Regions from separate parts of the Homo sapiens genome. Here region 2 is linked to region 1. Evidence: fine-mapped expression QTL. Tissue or cell type: whole blood. Region 1 holds a variant in brackets; the other region holds the start of a gene. All regions are shown on one strand. Distances are between the middles of the regions.

Evidence for each region. PIP is the estimated chance that this variant, and not a neighbour inherited with it, causes the effect.
Region 2: MXD3 starts here. The variant in region 1 is fine-mapped to the expression of MXD3 in whole blood (TOPMed, PIP above 0.99).

What each region holds. Positions count from the first base shown.
Region 1 is chr5:177,134,678-177,142,677 of GRCh38, forward strand. It overlaps NSD1 (nuclear receptor binding SET domain protein 1), which reads left to right. Exons shown (of 23, transcript NM_022455.5): 2 at 410-1,353. The coding sequence starts at 427. Among named protein-coding and RNA genes, the nearest start is that of NSD1, 4.9 kb to the left of the region's middle. RefSeq lists an enhancer at 1-298. The variant C/A (reference allele first, on the strand shown) is at 3,413.
Region 2 is chr5:177,307,325-177,315,451 of GRCh38, forward strand. MXD3 (MAX dimerization protein 3) reads right to left here and starts at 4,574. Exons shown (of 6, transcript NM_031300.4): 1 at 4,437-4,574; 2 at 4,055-4,160; 3 at 3,344-3,373; 4 at 3,102-3,216; 5 at 457-640; 6 at 1-379. The coding sequence starts at 4,506. The coding sequence ends at 264. RefSeq lists enhancers at 119-198, 2,239-2,308, 2,379-2,428, 2,675-3,541, 3,799-3,998 and 1 more and silencers at 4,549-4,728, 4,859-5,428.

The DNA.
Region 1 (8,000 bases):
GTGCAGGGTCCAGGAGCCCCCCTCGGACCCCGCAGCCTTTTGCTTTTGAGAGATCCAGCTGCTCGACCCCTGGCGAGGGAGGGGGAGGACTAGTCCTGTTTGAGAATTGGGAATTTTGACGGGCAGAGGGGTTTTAATTTTAGTTCATCCCAAGTGTCCACCAGTCTACAGAGGAGGAAAAAGAGACGGGCTGTTTCTATGTAGCAGGATCGGCCCAGCTTCGGGAAAATGGAGTTTTCAGAGGCTCATCGAGGCCATTTTTTCATCTCCAGTCGGGGGAACTTTTTCTGCCCATGGAAGTGCAGCAGAAAGGCATAGAGGCCACTAGGCCTTGAAGTGGCTGCCATTTTAAAGAGTCGAGTCAGATGGCCTATTAACTCAGATTAATTGCTGTGCTTTTGGATTCCAGGTTGATGCCGGCCCAGGATGGATCAGACCTGTGAACTACCCAGAAGAAATTGTCTGCTGCCCTTTTCCAATCCAGTGAATTTAGATGCCCCTGAAGACAAGGACAGCCCTTTCGGTAATGGTCAATCCAATTTTTCTGAGCCACTTAATGGGTGTACTATGCAGTTATCGACTGTCAGTGGAACATCCCAAAATGCTTATGGACAAGATTCTCCATCTTGTTACATTCCACTGCGGAGACTACAGGATTTGGCCTCCATGATCAATGTAGAGTATTTAAATGGGTCTGCTGATGGATCAGAATCCTTTCAAGACCCTGAAAAAAGTGATTCAAGAGCTCAGACGCCAATTGTTTGCACTTCCTTGAGTCCTGGTGGTCCTACAGCACTTGCTATGAAACAGGAACCCTCTTGTAATAACTCCCCTGAACTCCAGGTAAAAGTAACAAAGACTATCAAGAATGGCTTTCTGCACTTTGAGAATTTTACTTGTGTGGACGATGCAGATGTAGATTCTGAAATGGACCCAGAACAGCCAGTCACAGAGGATGAGAGTATAGAGGAGATCTTTGAGGAAACTCAGACCAATGCCACCTGCAATTATGAGACTAAATCAGAGAATGGTGTAAAAGTGGCCATGGGAAGTGAACAAGACAGCACACCAGAGAGTAGACACGGTGCAGTCAAATCGCCATTCTTGCCATTAGCTCCTCAGACTGAAACACAGAAAAATAAGCAAAGAAATGAAGTGGACGGCAGCAATGAAAAAGCAGCCCTTCTCCCAGCCCCCTTTTCACTAGGAGACACAAACATTACAATAGAAGAGCAATTAAACTCAATAAATTTATCTTTTCAGGATGATCCAGATTCCAGTACCAGTACATTAGGAAACATGCTAGAATTACCTGGAACTTCATCATCATCTACTTCACAGGAATTGCCATTTGTAAGCAGTTTTTGGTACAACTTAAATATATACATATATGTATATATACAGGCCACTTAAAGGGAAACTTGTAACAAATTTGTTTTTGGTTGCTTATCAGTTCACAGCTGAAATCCTATTGCTAATCATAAGCTTTGGGCAAAATTTTACTTTGATTTTTAAATTTATCTCTGTTGTATGAATTTGGTTGTTTTAAGCTTTTTCCAAATAACTCTTCATTGAGAGTAGGCTAATGCTTTTAAAGGCATTTGATTGAGTTCAGGTTTAATTTCTCAAGTTGGAGGTATACATATATGATTAAAAAAAAAAAAAAAAGATGGGTTTTGGCCTGCCAGCACCATGAGTGCAGGTGAACCAATTTAGTACTTGGAGTCCTGTTGCTATATGTGGCAGATTATTTTTTTACTTGATGACTTGACTCTTACTTCAGGTTGAAGGGCATTTTGAACACAGATTAAAGTGGCTAAGATGAAGTTTTCTTGGACATTGTCAAAATCTAAATTAGGCTAGTTTTTCTGAACTACCTGTTTTGAAGGTATAGCATCCTGTGCTTTTGATAACTGCCACCATTAGCTCTTTTTTTTTTTTTTGAGGTGGAGTCTCACTCTGTTGCCAGGCTGGAGTGCAGTGGTTGATCACTGCAACCTCTGCCTCTTGGGTTCAAGCAATTCTCCTGCCTCACCCTCCCGAGTAGCTGGGATTACTGGTACCCATCACCACGCCCGGCTAATTTTTGTATCACCATTAGCTCTTGAAGTTTTTCTAGTTTTGTTTTGTTTTATTTTATTTTATTTTAACAGAACCCTAACTAAGACAAAGTTTTATATTTATTTATTGTTTAGAGACTGGCCTTGTCATGTTGCCCAGGCTGGCGTCGGGACTCCTGGGCTCATTCGATCCTCCTGCATCAGCTAGAACTACAGTAGTTTCAGATTTTGAAGTGTGTATGTGTATGTGTGATATGTATATATTCCGTGTGTATAGAAATGGAGAGTATCTTATTTGAGTTGTTGTTTTCAGTAATGCTGTCAAGTATTGTTAGAGGGTGATAAATGATAACATTTGTTTTTATTTGAGCTTATGAAGAATTTCTTGACTTTCTAGCTAAATGATCAGTTCACTTCTCTTAGCCTCAATTTTATTGCGTCTAAATTCCAGAAGTTCTTGATTGCTATAAGATTCCTTCAGCTTTAAATATTAATATTTGATATTGATTTTGTTTCTGCCCAAACACATTGTTTGGTCACCGCCGGTAATGTTAGCAAAGAGAATTTTTTTTGGCCAACAAATGTCTCATACCACATTCAGTTTTTATAAGAAAAACTTTTATGGTATGTTGTTATTCTGAGTTCATTAAACATTCGCTTTACCTTATATCCCTGCTGTTCTTTAAAGTTACAGAGGGAGAATGTGGGTGTGTCACTTTTGTTTCTGTTGATTTGTATCTTAATTATGCCTTGGTACTCCTTGGTTTCTTGGCAATTGCAGATTTAAAAAAATTTGCTTTAGTGGTTATCTTGAGTCTGAATTGTCCTACACATTAGGGTGGGTAGGCTGTTTTGAAAACCTATTGGCAGCTCAGACAAATCCTTTTTCTTGGGTTCACGTTGAAATTTATTTTATATATATATCGTGTCTTTGTTTTTGCACATAAATTTAAATCTGAGAATGGAGATAGATGTTTCTCTAGAAGCATACAAATAGAATTGTAAACCTGTTTCTCGTCAAAGAGATGTTAGTGGAGTATTGGTTCTATTAAAAAAAAAATGAAGGCTGAGTGTGGTGGCTCACACCTGTAGTCCCAGCACTTTGGGAGGCTGAGGTGGACAGATCACCTGAGGTCAGGAGTTTGAGACCAGTCTGGCCAACATGGTGAAACTCCGTCTCTACAAAAATTAGCCGGGCGTGATGGTGGGCAACTGTAATCCCAGCTACTCGAGAGGCTGAGGCAGGAGAATCGCTTGAACCCAGGAGGCAGAGGTTGCAGTGAGCCAAGATTGCGCCATTGCACTCCATACTGGGAAATAAGAGTGAAACTCTGTCTCAAAAAAAAAAACAA[C/A]AAAAAAACAAACAAACAAACAAACAAAAAACTGAAAATATTGGAGCCTTTAGATAGTAGGTTACATGTCTAAAATGGGAGTTAGCAAATGTATAAATGTAGAAGTTTTTTTTTCAGGGAGAAATTGAAATTGCTCAAAGACTTTATCACCTTGAAGAAGCAAGTATGTAGTTTATTTATTTTTTTGAGACACAGTCATGCTGTCACCCAGGCTGGAGTGTAGTGGCGCGATCTCAGCTCACTTCAACCACCTCCTCCTGGGTTCAAGCGATTCTCCCACCTCAGCCTCCCGAGTAGCTGGGACTACAGGTGTGCACCACCATGCCTGACTACTTTTTGTATTTTTATTAGAGACGAGGTTTCACCATGTGGGCCAGGCTGGTCTTGAACTCCTGACCTCAGGTGATCCGCCCACCTTGGCCTCCCAAAGTGCTGGGATTACAGGCGTGAGCCACCGTACCCATCCCCTAATTTATTATTTTAGGAATTTGGTTCAAAGTTGTGATTGAAATCTATTGCCTTTATTTTTGCCTTTGATATTTTTAAACTGAAGACATTTTTTTTTTTGAGACGAAGTTTCACTCTTGTTGCCCAGGCTGGAGTGCAATGGCATGATCTCGGCTCACTGCAATCTCCGCCTTCTGGGTTCAAGCAGTTCTCCTGCCTCAGCCTTCTGAGTAGCTGGGATTACAGGTGCGCACCACCACCCCAGCTAATTTTTGTATTTTTAGTAGAGATGGGGTTTTACCATGTTGGCCCAGCTGGTCTCGAACTCCTGACCTCAGGTGATCCACCCGCCTCAGCCTCCCAAAGTGCTGGGATTACAGGTGTGAGCCACGGAGCCCGGCCTCAGACTGAGGACTTAAAAAGTGAGGTCAGGGTGGGCATGGTGGCTCACGCCTGTAATCCCAGCACTTTGGGAGGCTGAGGCGGGTGGATCACCTGAGATGAGGATTTCAAGACCAGCCTGGCCAACATGGCAAAACCCCGTCTCTACTAAAAATACAAAAAATTAGCTAGGCATGGTGGCAGGAGCCTGTAATCTCAGCTATTTGGGAGGCTGAGGCAGGAGAATCACTTGAACCCGGGAGGCTGAGGTTGCAGTGAGCTGAGATCGCCCCATTGCACTCTAGCCTGGGCAACAAGAGCGAAACTCCCTCTCAAGAAAAAAAAAAACCATCCTGGCCGACATGGTGAAACCCCGTCTCTACTAAAAATACAAAAATTAGCTGGGCGTGGTGGCAGGCTCGGGAGGTTGAGGCAGGAGAATCACTTGAACCCGGGAGGCGGAGGTTGCAGTGAGCCGAGATTGTGCCACTGCACTCCAGCCTTGAGACAGAGGGAGACTCCATCTCAAAAAAAAAAAAAAAAAGCGGTCAATCTTAGAATGCAAAGTTAGGTAAGCAATACAGCTTGAGAAAAGTGTAATTAAAAATAACTTTTCTATGTAGTCATGTGATATTAATGTATTCAACTTGTTCACAGTTGATTTAAGTTATTGATATAGTAGGTATTGTTACTATGCTGGGAATTTTAGAAAATCCTTAGCAAATTGCTATTTGTCTCTTTTTGTCTGTAATTTTGGCTGGGCTTGGTGGCTAACACCTGTAATTCTAGCAAGTTGGGAAGCCGAGACAAAAGGATTGCTTGGGGCCCAGAGTTTGAAACTAGACTGGGCAACATAGTGAGATCCTGTCTCTACACTCAGTTGGTTGTGGTGGTATGCCTGTAGTCCCAGCTACTCAGGAGGCTGAGGCAGTAGTAGGATCACTTGAGGCCAGAAGTTTGAGACTGCAGTGAGCCATGATCATGCCACTGCATTCCAGCCTAGGCAACAGAGCAAGATCCTGTCAAAAAAAAAAAAAAAGGAGAAAATTCTCTTGGCAGTGGGTAAGAGTAGTTATTAGGGTTGTAGATTTCCTGTCTGGAATTAGAGAAAGAAGGGTCATATTTTCTGTTATTTTGTGTATCTACCTCTAAGTGGACTGTTTGCCTCTTGTCACGAATTAGTAGCCTCTTCAGTTTACCATCATGTGCTCTTATTTTCTCTGCATACAGTGAAGTGATTGTCATTACAATTTATAATCCTGACCTGGTACTTTTATATTTAATTGGGCTGATATTTTCTAATTCTTCCCAGTGTACAAAGGTTTTATGCTTTGTTGTTGTTGTTGAGACAGGCTAGGTGCTTTGGATGTGGAGAATTAAATGAGCATGGCATTTTCAGAGGATACTTGTTGGAGATTGCTTGGGTAGGATGGATGTAGTCAGGTAATGGGGCCTAGAAATTCAGACTGAAGCATTTGGTATTGATGTGATGGGAACTGGCAGCCCTTGAGAGATTTTAGCTGAGAAGTGATGTAAAATCTGTTTGGAAGACTTTGAGTAGAGGAGATTAGAGGCAAGGTTAGGATGTAGGGTATGTTGCAATAGTAATTAAGACTTAAGAATCGGCCCAGTGGCATGTACCTGTAGTCCTAGCTACTCTGGAGGCCGAGGCAGGAGGATCACTTGAGGCTGCAATTAGCTGTGATTGTGCCTGTGAATAGCCACTGCACTCCAACCTAGGCAATATAATGAGATTCTGTCTCTTAAAAAAAAAATGAGCACAGTGAGTACTCTAAAGAAAGGGGGTAAATCTAAAAGATTATTTCAAAGGGAGAAAATTGGCAGCTTTTTGGGGGCTACCTGATCTGGAGGCAGATTGGAGTCTGGATTTGAGGAATGGAGAGAGATGAGGCAGATGATGTCTAAGGCTTATAGTTTTGCTGCCTGAGACAAAAATGATTCCTCAGAGGTTCCTTCCTCTTCTCTACCCATCATCCCACAATTTTCTACTCCCTCCTTAGCTATCTTGGAAGAAAATTGATCTCTTCACACCTGAGGTTCTGCTCTCTCTCCGATTCCCTCCTGGCTGGGTGACCTTTTTTGTTTGTTTTTGTTTTTGTTTTGAGACAGAGTCTCACTCTGTCACCCAGGCTGGAGTGCAGTGGGGCGATCTCGGCTCACTGCAACCTCTGCCTCCCAGGTTCAAGCAATTCTCTGCCTCAGCCTCTGGAGTAGCTGGGATTACAGGCGCCCGCCACCGCAACCAGCTAATTTTTATATTTTTAGTAGAGACGGGGTTTCACCATCTTGGCCAGGCTGGTCTTGAACTCCTGACCTCGTGATCCACCCGCCTTGGCCTCCCAAAGTGCTGGGATTACAGGCGTGAGCCACCGCGCGCAGCCTTTTTTTTTTTTTTTTTTTTTTTTTTTTTAAGATGAATTCTTGCTCTGTTGCCCAGGCTGGAGTGCAGTGGTGTGACCTTAGCCCACGGCAACCTCCATCTCCTGGGTTCAAGAGATTCTTGTGCCTCAGCCTCCCAAGTAGCTGGGATTGCAGGCGCCCTCCACCATGCTTGGCTAATTTTTGTATTTTTAGCAGAGAGAGGTTTCACCATGTTGGCCAGGCTGGTCTCGAACCCCTAACCTCAAGTGATCCACCTGCTTCAGTCTTTCAAAGTGCTGGAATTACAGGTGTGAGCCACCACGACCTGCATACCACTTCTCAAACAGTCCTTTTTTGCGTCCTTGTTCTCTTTTTCTTCCTCTTTCTCTGCAGTCTCATTCACTTTCATTGATTCTGCTGCTACTCCACTCTATGAAACTCTCTTCTGAACTGACTTCAAACCAACAAATTCTACTTGTCAACTAAGCTGCTCCTCTACCTTGTGTTATATTCACCTAAAATGTAATATTATTTCCTTTTTTATTTTTCCTTTGGACAGGGTCTTTCTCTGTCACCCAGGCTGTAGTGCAGTGGTGCCATCTCGGCTCACTGCAACCTCTGCCTTCTGGGTTCAAGTGATTCTCCTGCCTCAGCCTCCTAAGTAGCTGGGACTACAGGCGCCCACCACCATGCCTGGCTAATTTTTGTATTTTTAGTAGAGACAGGGTTTTGCCATGTTGGCCATGCTGGTCTCAAACTCCTGACCTCAAGTGATACGCCTGCCTCTGCTTCCCAAAGTGCTGGGATTACAGGCATGAGCCACTGCGCCCAGCCTATTATTTTCATTTTGAACCCATCTCTTTTATTGCCAAACACGCATTTACTTCTGTGTTCATGATGACATCATTATCCTATTCATCTCAAAGCTGGAAACCTTGCAGTCAATCATTTAAATGATTAAAATACATTTGAGTACCTCTTGAGCCAGGCACTGCCAGTATAATAAAAAATAAAAAAATTAAAAAAAGGAAAGAGATAGTTTGCTTTTAAGGAACTTCACTGTGTGGCAAAAACTAGTGTAAACAATGACAATACAGAATACTAAGTGGTCTGGTAGGTGTTATGTATGCAGTACTTTGGGAGTGTGGAGGAAGGCATGCCTAGAATAATCAGGGAGGACTTCACAGAGTGGTTATTTATAGTTTAAGCAGAGACATACCAGTAAGAGGGAATAGCATATGCAAGTGGCCAGAAATCCTTGGCTAGCTATCTGGGAGGAGTGGGGTTGTCAGGAGATAAAGGTATAAAGATAGGCTTATATGCCGTGCTGTATAGTTGAATGTTTTTACTATTACAAAATTTTACAGATGCCCTCAGT
Region 2 (8,127 bases), 170 kb after region 1:
AGCCAAATGCTTGGGCTCGGGCCCAAGCTGCCTGCCCTGCAGGGGTCCAGGGAGGTCCTGATGAGTCCTGCCCCTTCCCTTCCAGAGGGCCTGCCTGGCAGCCAGCAGCAGGGTGTTTGGGGAGCACCTGTTCCCACACAAGGGTCCTTTTAGTCCATTCCAACAGGTGACTCCGAGCAGCCCTGAAGGCTTGGGGAGGGCTCCTGCCTGGCAAGTGGGCCTGGCACGAGTAGAGGGCAGAGGCCCGCCCTGGGTGAGGAACATCATAGCCAGGCGCCGCCGCCGTGCGAGTAGCTGTGCTCCTGGCCGGCGACGAAGCCCCGCAGCAGCTCGGCCTCACCCCCAAACACCAGGCTCTCCACATCCACCTCCAGCTCCTCTGCGCGGGGAGGGGTCCGGTCAGAAGACCTGGCTCGCCCCGAGGGCCACACAACCCCTCAGCCTCGGGGCACTCACCTTGGTCTGAGTCTGAGCGCTCAGAGGAGAGGCCTGAGGAGTCCAGACTGTCCGCCCGCAGCCGCTCCCGCTCGGCCGCCCCTGCCAGCCCCCGGAGCTGCTCCAGCTGCCGCTGCAGGCTCTGCTGCTTGCTGCGCAGCCTCTCCTTGAGCTGTCGGGCCCGCTGCTCCTGATCCTCCAGCTTCTGCGGATCCCAAAGGAGCAAGGGGCTGGGGTCAGCGGCGTGGGGGCTTGGGCTGCACCCCAGCACCACTCAGTACCGGGCCACGGCCACAGGGCCAATGCCCACTCCGGGCAGGTGGCGACTAAATCCAGGCCCCAGAGGGTTGCACCCACATCCTCCAGAAAGCCAGCCCCTTTCCGGCCATGCACACGTCCTGTCAGGGTGCTGCCTAGATTGGGGGTGGGGGGGCACCACAATCTCAAAGGCATTTGGGGCCTAGTCAAGGATAAAGGACTGGAGTGCTGTGGCGTCCAGGGGTGGGAACTGGGAGCAGGGTGCACTGCTGCGTGTACACTCTGGCTCAGGAGCCAGGCATGTGCTGTCATGGGAAACAGGCCCGGTGTTACCAGGTCTCCCCGTTTCTTTTGTTTTTTGTTTTTTTTTTTTGAAACAGAGTCTCGCTCTGTCGCCCAGGCTGGAGTGCAGTGGCACAATCTCGGCTCACCACAACCTCCACCTCTTAAGTTCAAGCAATTCCCTAGTCTCGGCCTCACAAGTAGCTGGGACTACAGGGGCCCGCCACCATGCCCAGCTAATTTTTGTATTTTTAGTGGAGACGGGGTTTCACCATATTGGTCAGGCTGGTCTCAAACTCCTGACCTCAGGTAATCCGCCTGCCTCAGCCTCCTAAAGTGCTGAGATTATAGGTGTGAGCCACCGCGCCCGGCCCCCCATTTCTTTACGAGAAGCTAGCTGGAAAGTCAGATTTTTCATGTCAAATGTCTTTTGAGGGATTGACAGCTAATTTAAATTTTTAGAAAACTAGAGAACAAACAAAGGCTACCAGTCTGTAGCTCCTGGTCACGATCCCTACAAGAGCGAGAGCGTGAAGGCGTTAGCACCCTCCCTCCCATACCCCTACCTCCCGCCAAGCTCTGCCAGCCCTGAAGTTCCAAGGACTGGAAGGCCAAGGGCTCTCCCAGGCGGAGCCCTCAGTGGGCAGAAGCTTACATTCGGTCATTCAACAAGAAGGGGAGAACTGGGCCATGGAGGCGTTTGGACTGGGCGTAGAAAGATAAGAGCTGCCGAGGCAAACACAGGGAGGAAGAAACGTCAAGACACAGCAGAGGGAGCCTGGGAAGAGCACAGAGCATTCAGCTTCTGTGGGGCACAGGGAGAGATGAGGCCAAAAGAGCAGCCTACTGGCAAGTCCTGGGTTATGAAGGGCCTTGAGTTTCACAGGAAGGAAGGGGAGCAGAGGCTTTGTCCTGTCAGGGGCCACTGGTGGGTTTTCAGCAGGAGATGGGCCTGGGTAGATAGGTGTGCTGCAGAGATCATTCTAGAGCAAAGTAGAAGACAGCCTGGTGGAGGCAAAACAGGTAACAGGAAGGCTGGGAGGAGGCCGGTGAATTAATCCAGGAGAGGGGTGATGGAGCCCCAGAGAAGGAGCACTGCCCAGGTCCTGCCCACAGGCCAGCCAGCCCCTGAGGGGCACACATCATCCATCCGAGAACCAGGCCAGGCAAGCTCCGTGTGAGAAACTGGGCCACTACCCAACCAGAGTGTTACTCAGCCACAATGATGGTAATAACAGACGCCGGGCGGCAGTGCAGCTGTTCCCGCAGCTGTGGTTTATTTACTAACAGCGCATAGGTCTTTGTGTGCCACAGCCCCCAGTGCCTAGAATAGGGCCTAGCAGAACCAGTGCTCAGTAAACACTTGTCAGAGGAGATAACGCAAGCCAGGGAACTGGGCATGGGTCCTGAATCTGCCGCCCATCAGCTGTGCAACTTGTTGGCCCTCAGCCTAGCTGTGCCTTCATGTATTCCTCTAGAGGGCAGGAAAAGTCCTGTGGTTTCCAAGGCCACTTCTGACATGGCCAGGGCCACCTGGGCCTTTATTCAGCACATCCACTCCTGTCCACCAGGGGGCACTGAGCTCAGCCCCAGCAGCAGCAGGAGCCCTGGGAGGACCAGTGACTGGCGTCTTCTCAGTCCTTTCCCCTCCTGTCCCTGGAGCTGCCTCCCAGGTGGCACCAGGATAGACTGCCCATAACAGGAGGCCTTGAAGGTGAGAGGGGGAGAGCAAGGACCAACCCTCTACAGTCCCAAGGACCCCCACATACATCCCATCACAGAATTCAACAGCCATCCCCTCCCCTCAAACAGGAGGGAAGGTTAGTCCAGACAGGCTAAGTAACCTGCCCAAGGTCTCACAGCTGTGATCTAAGTGATAACAGCTGTAACAGCAACAGTGAACATTTATAGAGTGAACTCATTTAAGCCTCAACAACCCTCTGAGTTATTGTCTGCTTTTCTTCCCATTTAATGGATCTGGAAAGTAAAAGCTCAGAGAGCTGTCCTAAGTCACACAGTTCTTGAGCTCTGACCTCAGGTCTCGTTCCCCAGTCCCACCAGCCCCTCCATAGCACAGCCCTCCATACACCAGGGCAAGCCAGTCCGGGCGCAGTGGGGGGCCTCACCTGGATGTGCATCCTGGCACGGCGCAGCAGGCTCAGCGTGGTGTACCGGGCACAGTCGGCCCCCAGGGGCATCTGCTGCTTCAGCCGCTCCAGGCACCGCTTCAACTGGGCCCTCCTGTGGGGAAGAGGTCTGGAGGGCAGTGCCAGCCCCACCTTGCCGGCCACAGGAATGGCAGGGGAGGGAAGGCCAGAGGGCAGTGGCCCCTGGGGGCTGGCGCTGTCAGGGCAGGACTGGGACTCACCTGCGCTTCTCCAGTTCATTGTGCACTGACCTGCCAATGCCAGAGAGGATGAGGTGAAGGGGAATCAGCTACTGCCCATGCCCCAATCCCAGGGCCCCCAGTGGCTCAAGAGCCACTACAGATGTCTGCCCCAAACAAGTCCCCTGTGGAGAGCTCATGCTGGCCTCAGACACCAGAGTCCCCTGGCAGGGCGAGGGGAGTCAAAGACACACGGAGCCAAATGCTTAACAGAAGCCTGCCCAGGTGGGTATGAGGGCCCTAACAAGGGCGCCTGCCAGCTGGCCAGAAAGGACCTCCCAGAGGTGACAGCTAACTGCGGAAACAGATGTTTCCCAAGCCGGTACTGGAGGGAGGGGCATTCAAATAGGAGGGAACAGCATATGCAAAGGGCTGGGGAGAGGAGAGAAGAGGAGGAAGCCAGCGGGGGAGGTGAGTGGCCTGATGTGTGGGGTGCGGGAGTGCGAGTGGAAGCGGGACCCCAACTGCTGTTGGCAGTTCCCGGCACATCTAGAGGTGCTCAAGAAATAGTCCTTGAATGAATAGAAAGGTGTGAGTGTGTTTGGAGAGTGGGGAGATGGCAGGAGGGGTCTGAACGCTTCCTGGAGCGGGACACCTGGCCCAAAAGATGCAAGCAACAAGTGGGCAGAGGAGGGCCCGACCAGGGGCGGCGCCCACCCCCACCCCCACTCCCGCCGCCCCCGGCCTCCTCACCGCCCGCTGTCCTGCGCGCCAGGAGCCTGGGGGGGTCGCTTCTTCCTCCTGTGGATGGGGCCTGGACTGCGATGCGGGCACAGGGACGCATAACCATGCTCGGCCTCTGCCAGAGAGAGTCCCCGCCCGCGTCAGGCTGGGGCTGGACCTGGTCCCAGCGGCAGCCCCAGGCACAGCACGGTCAAGGAAAGGCTTTTGGCGCCAGGACCATTTCCCCCACCCGTCCCTGCTCTACCGCCCCGGGACTCCTCTCGAGTTGAGGGCGAGGCGCCCCGGGATTACTGTCCTAGGGCGGTGCATCCTTCAAGCTGGGAGCCAGGTCCAGTCCAGGCCCGTGTCAGCGAGGTCGCCGCCCGGAATTCAGCCAAGGGTCCTTCCTCACCTCTCTCACGGCGCTCCAGGAACTCGGCCGCCTGCAGCAGGACCTGGATGTTGCTGGCCAAGGGTTCCATGTCGGCGACAGCTGGCGGCGGGCCGGCCTAGGGTGCCGGCCGGAGCAAGCGGCTGCAGCACTTTTGTTACAAAGTAACTGACACGGTGCAACAAACACAGGGGCCCGCCCCGCCCCCGGGACGCCCCGCCCGCGGGAACGCCCAGCCCTTGGCTCCGCCCCTCTGGAACCCGCCACGGAGCCGCAGCCCACCCTCCGGCAGCCGCCCCGCCCCGAGTGGTCTCAGACTTTCCAGGGGCAGGTAAGGGCGCTGGCTCCAGGCCTGGCCCTGGAGCGAACCCTCAGGCTAACCGGTGCTGCTTCTTGCCCGCCTCACTCATCCACCCACGCCGGCTCATTGGCGTCTTTGATCTCAGCTTCCAGCCCCGTGCTAGTGACTAGCCCCCAACATAGCACGGCGCTCTGGGGGCCTGGTGGTCCCCTGAAAGCGCCGGGCCCAGCCGCTGCACGTGGGTGCCGCGGGGGCGGGGCCTCCGGCCGCCGCTCGCCCATTCGCACATGGCTTCTCAAGGATCGCTGTTGTCATCCTCGGGGCGGGGTCGGGGAGCCTCTGATGCCCTATTGGCTGGCGCTCTGCCCCGCCCTCTCCCGCCGCTGATCCACACGTTCGGGCGGGAAAAGAAGCAGGTTTCAAATTTGAAAACCCAAGCGATGGGGCGGGGTTGAGAGGGGAGCTGGGCCTCAATGCGCAGGCGCCGGCGGAGGGGCGGCGGACCCGGCTCCTGCCCTCCGGGGTCTGTCCCCAAGCCTGCCTGCCATCTGCCCCCGAAGGCCCCCGTGGGCCCCAGCTTCCTACTGTGTCGAATGGGAATAATATCTCGGCCCCCCTCCTCTTCTGTGAGGAAGCTGTTGTTGCTACGAAAACGTCAGTGGGGTAACAGCTTCCTCAGGCAGGCCATACCCTGGAGGCACGCGAAATGGCCTTTTCCGGGGCCTTGGGCTCTGGTATCCACGCAGTTGGGGTCCTCTCCTGTCACTGATGTCTCAGCTGTGTATGACTCAGGAGGTGACCTCCGTCTCTAAGCCTCAGGAGCCCTGCGACAGCGTTGAAGGATCAGAGCCAATGCCTCTGCGGTGCCCATGGCATGAAGGAGCCGCCCATCTCAAAGGCCAGTGCAACCAGACCGCGGCGTTTGCCTCCCAGGCAGCCCCTGCTTGCCTTACTCAGAGTCCATAAACCCTTCTTGCACCTGACTCTCCTAGCCGGCCGAAGGAGTGGCTGTGATGACTTCTAGCCTCAGCACCAGCAGGTGGGGCCACATCTGGGGACAGGAAGATGAACGCAGCTGTAGCAGGGTGGAGCATTGCTGCCAGCCACGGGCTGAGTCTGTGACTCCAGTAATCCCAAAATAGAGAGGGGAGGGAAGGTGGGAGGGATAGATGCTCTGTAAAGAGACAGTCCTGGTAAACACAAGCACATGTCAGTCAGGCCTCAGTTCCTTGGGAAAAATCTTTTTTTTTTTTTTGAGTCTTGCTCTGTTGCCCAGGCTGAAGCGCAATGGCTCAGTCTCGACTCACTGCAACCTCCGCCTCCCGGGTTCAAGCAATTCTCCTGCCTCAGCCTCCCAAGTAGCTGAGACTACAAGCGCCCACCACCACACCCAGCTAATTTTTGTATTTTTAGTAGAGACGGGGTTTCACCGTGTTGGCCAGGCTGGTCTCGAACTCCTGACCTCAGGTGATCCACCCACCTCAGCCTCCCAAAGTGCTGGGATTACAGGTGTGAGCCACCGTTCCTGGCCGGGAAACATCTTGAAGTTTCGGCCAGGCGCCGAAAAAAAATGAAGTTTCTCTAAGAGTTGCTCACAGCGGAATAACTGCCCTGTCTAGGCAGACGATCCATCTACCCAGCCGCCTGTCCTTAACTCACAAAGTATTTGCTGAGCTCTCACTGGACACCAGGCGCTGTGCTGGGGGCTGGAGGACATACGATAGGCAAAATCATACAGGGTCCCTGCCCTTGCAGAGCTCATAGGCTTGAGAGGGAAAGACACCAATACAGTCGCAGGAAGGCGGAGGTCCAGCTGGACAGGTCCTCACAGGGAGAGACCATGCCCCACAACACATTCTAAGGAACATTTGACCTAATTGGTGAGGCCAGAGAAGGCTTTACTGGGGAAATGGATGAAGAGGTGTTATCTAAGTATAGGAGAGATGAAAGAATTCTAGACAAAGGAACAGCACATGCAAAGGCCCTGGGGCTGAAAGGAGCATGGCAGGGGCGGTGTGGCTTACAGAGAGCAAATAGCCTGGTGCAGGCTGACACTGGAGAGGCTGCAGGGCCCAGAACATGCTGATGGGTTCCCCCAAACTCCCCCCTGCAATCAGCCATCTCTGAAGGAAGGAGCCGCAAGGGTTGTGAATGAATTTCCAATTTTATTTCACTAAAGTCAGCACCATGCAGTGCAGACACGAACCTACTCAGATGTCTGGGCCCTAGGTGGCCTGGCCTCCAGTCTGGGTGGGATAGGGGTGGGGAGGTTCTGAAGGAGGAGAATTTTCAGCAAAGGGAAAGAAGGAAGCATATGTGAGCTGAAGACATGGCCAGGAGGTGGTGGGAGTCGGGGTGGGGCTGCAGAGGGGCTGGAGGGCTCATGTCAAGGAGTTTGGACTTCATCCTAGGAGCTGCAGAGCGGTTTTGAGCCAGGGACAGCATGTGGGCTGGGGTCAAGGCCACCGGCCAGGCCAGACAGGAACAATACCTCCCCAGGAACAGGATGGGACGGGGCATGGGGGGATCCAGCCTGGACCAGCAGGGATCCTGCCCCAAGCCCTTGGATGTCCCCTGGGCCCCTGTGAGAAAATGCTAGAGCTAGTGGCCTCTAGGCACAGGACTGGACAGAGGAGCTGCAGTGCCCCCCCAGCAGTGACCAGCCCAGATCCTCTGCCCTGGAGTCCGCAGGGTCCTGCGCTTCGCCCTGTGACCTCCTGCCTCCACCAGCCCACTGTAACTGGGGTTCTGCTGCCTGTACTTGCAGTGCAGACTCTACCCGGGTCTATGGTCCTCTGGGCTCCAAGGACAGAGTCTGCATCTGTGCCCTGAGTGGAAGGGGAGAAGGGAGACCCCCCCGCCCCAGGCCTTTGTCCCAGTTAGGACCCCTTGAAGAGGGGAGCCAATCCTGGGCTCACCGTCCTCCTCCACTCCATGGACACTCCATGGTGCAGGAGGAGATGGCCCTGCGTTCCCCAGATCCCTTTCCCCTTCTCCCCTGCAAGGAAGAGTCATCGGGGGAGTCGGGAGCCTGGCTCCGACCCTGGAACCCTGCCCAGCCTCCTCCCTGGGCTGCCCGCAGCCTCCCCTCTCCCAGAGAGCAGCACTCCCCAGTCACAGAGCTAACCAGGTCACGCCCCCACTGAAGGCCTCATGCCCCCGCTGAAGGCCCACGCTCCCATGGCCTTCAGGACAAAGTTTGAGCTGGGCAGGGGACATGCCATGGCCTTGCCCACCTCCCTGCCTCTGCCATCTCTGCTCAATGTCACTTGCTCCAGGAGGTTCCCAGGCCTCCCTCCTTCAGCGCATTCTCCCAAGTAGCAGTGGGCCCTGCATCTCTCAGGGTCAGCCTCTTCCTGCAGACTACGACCTCAGCGACAGAGCAAACCAATGCCGAACAGGGGCTTGGCC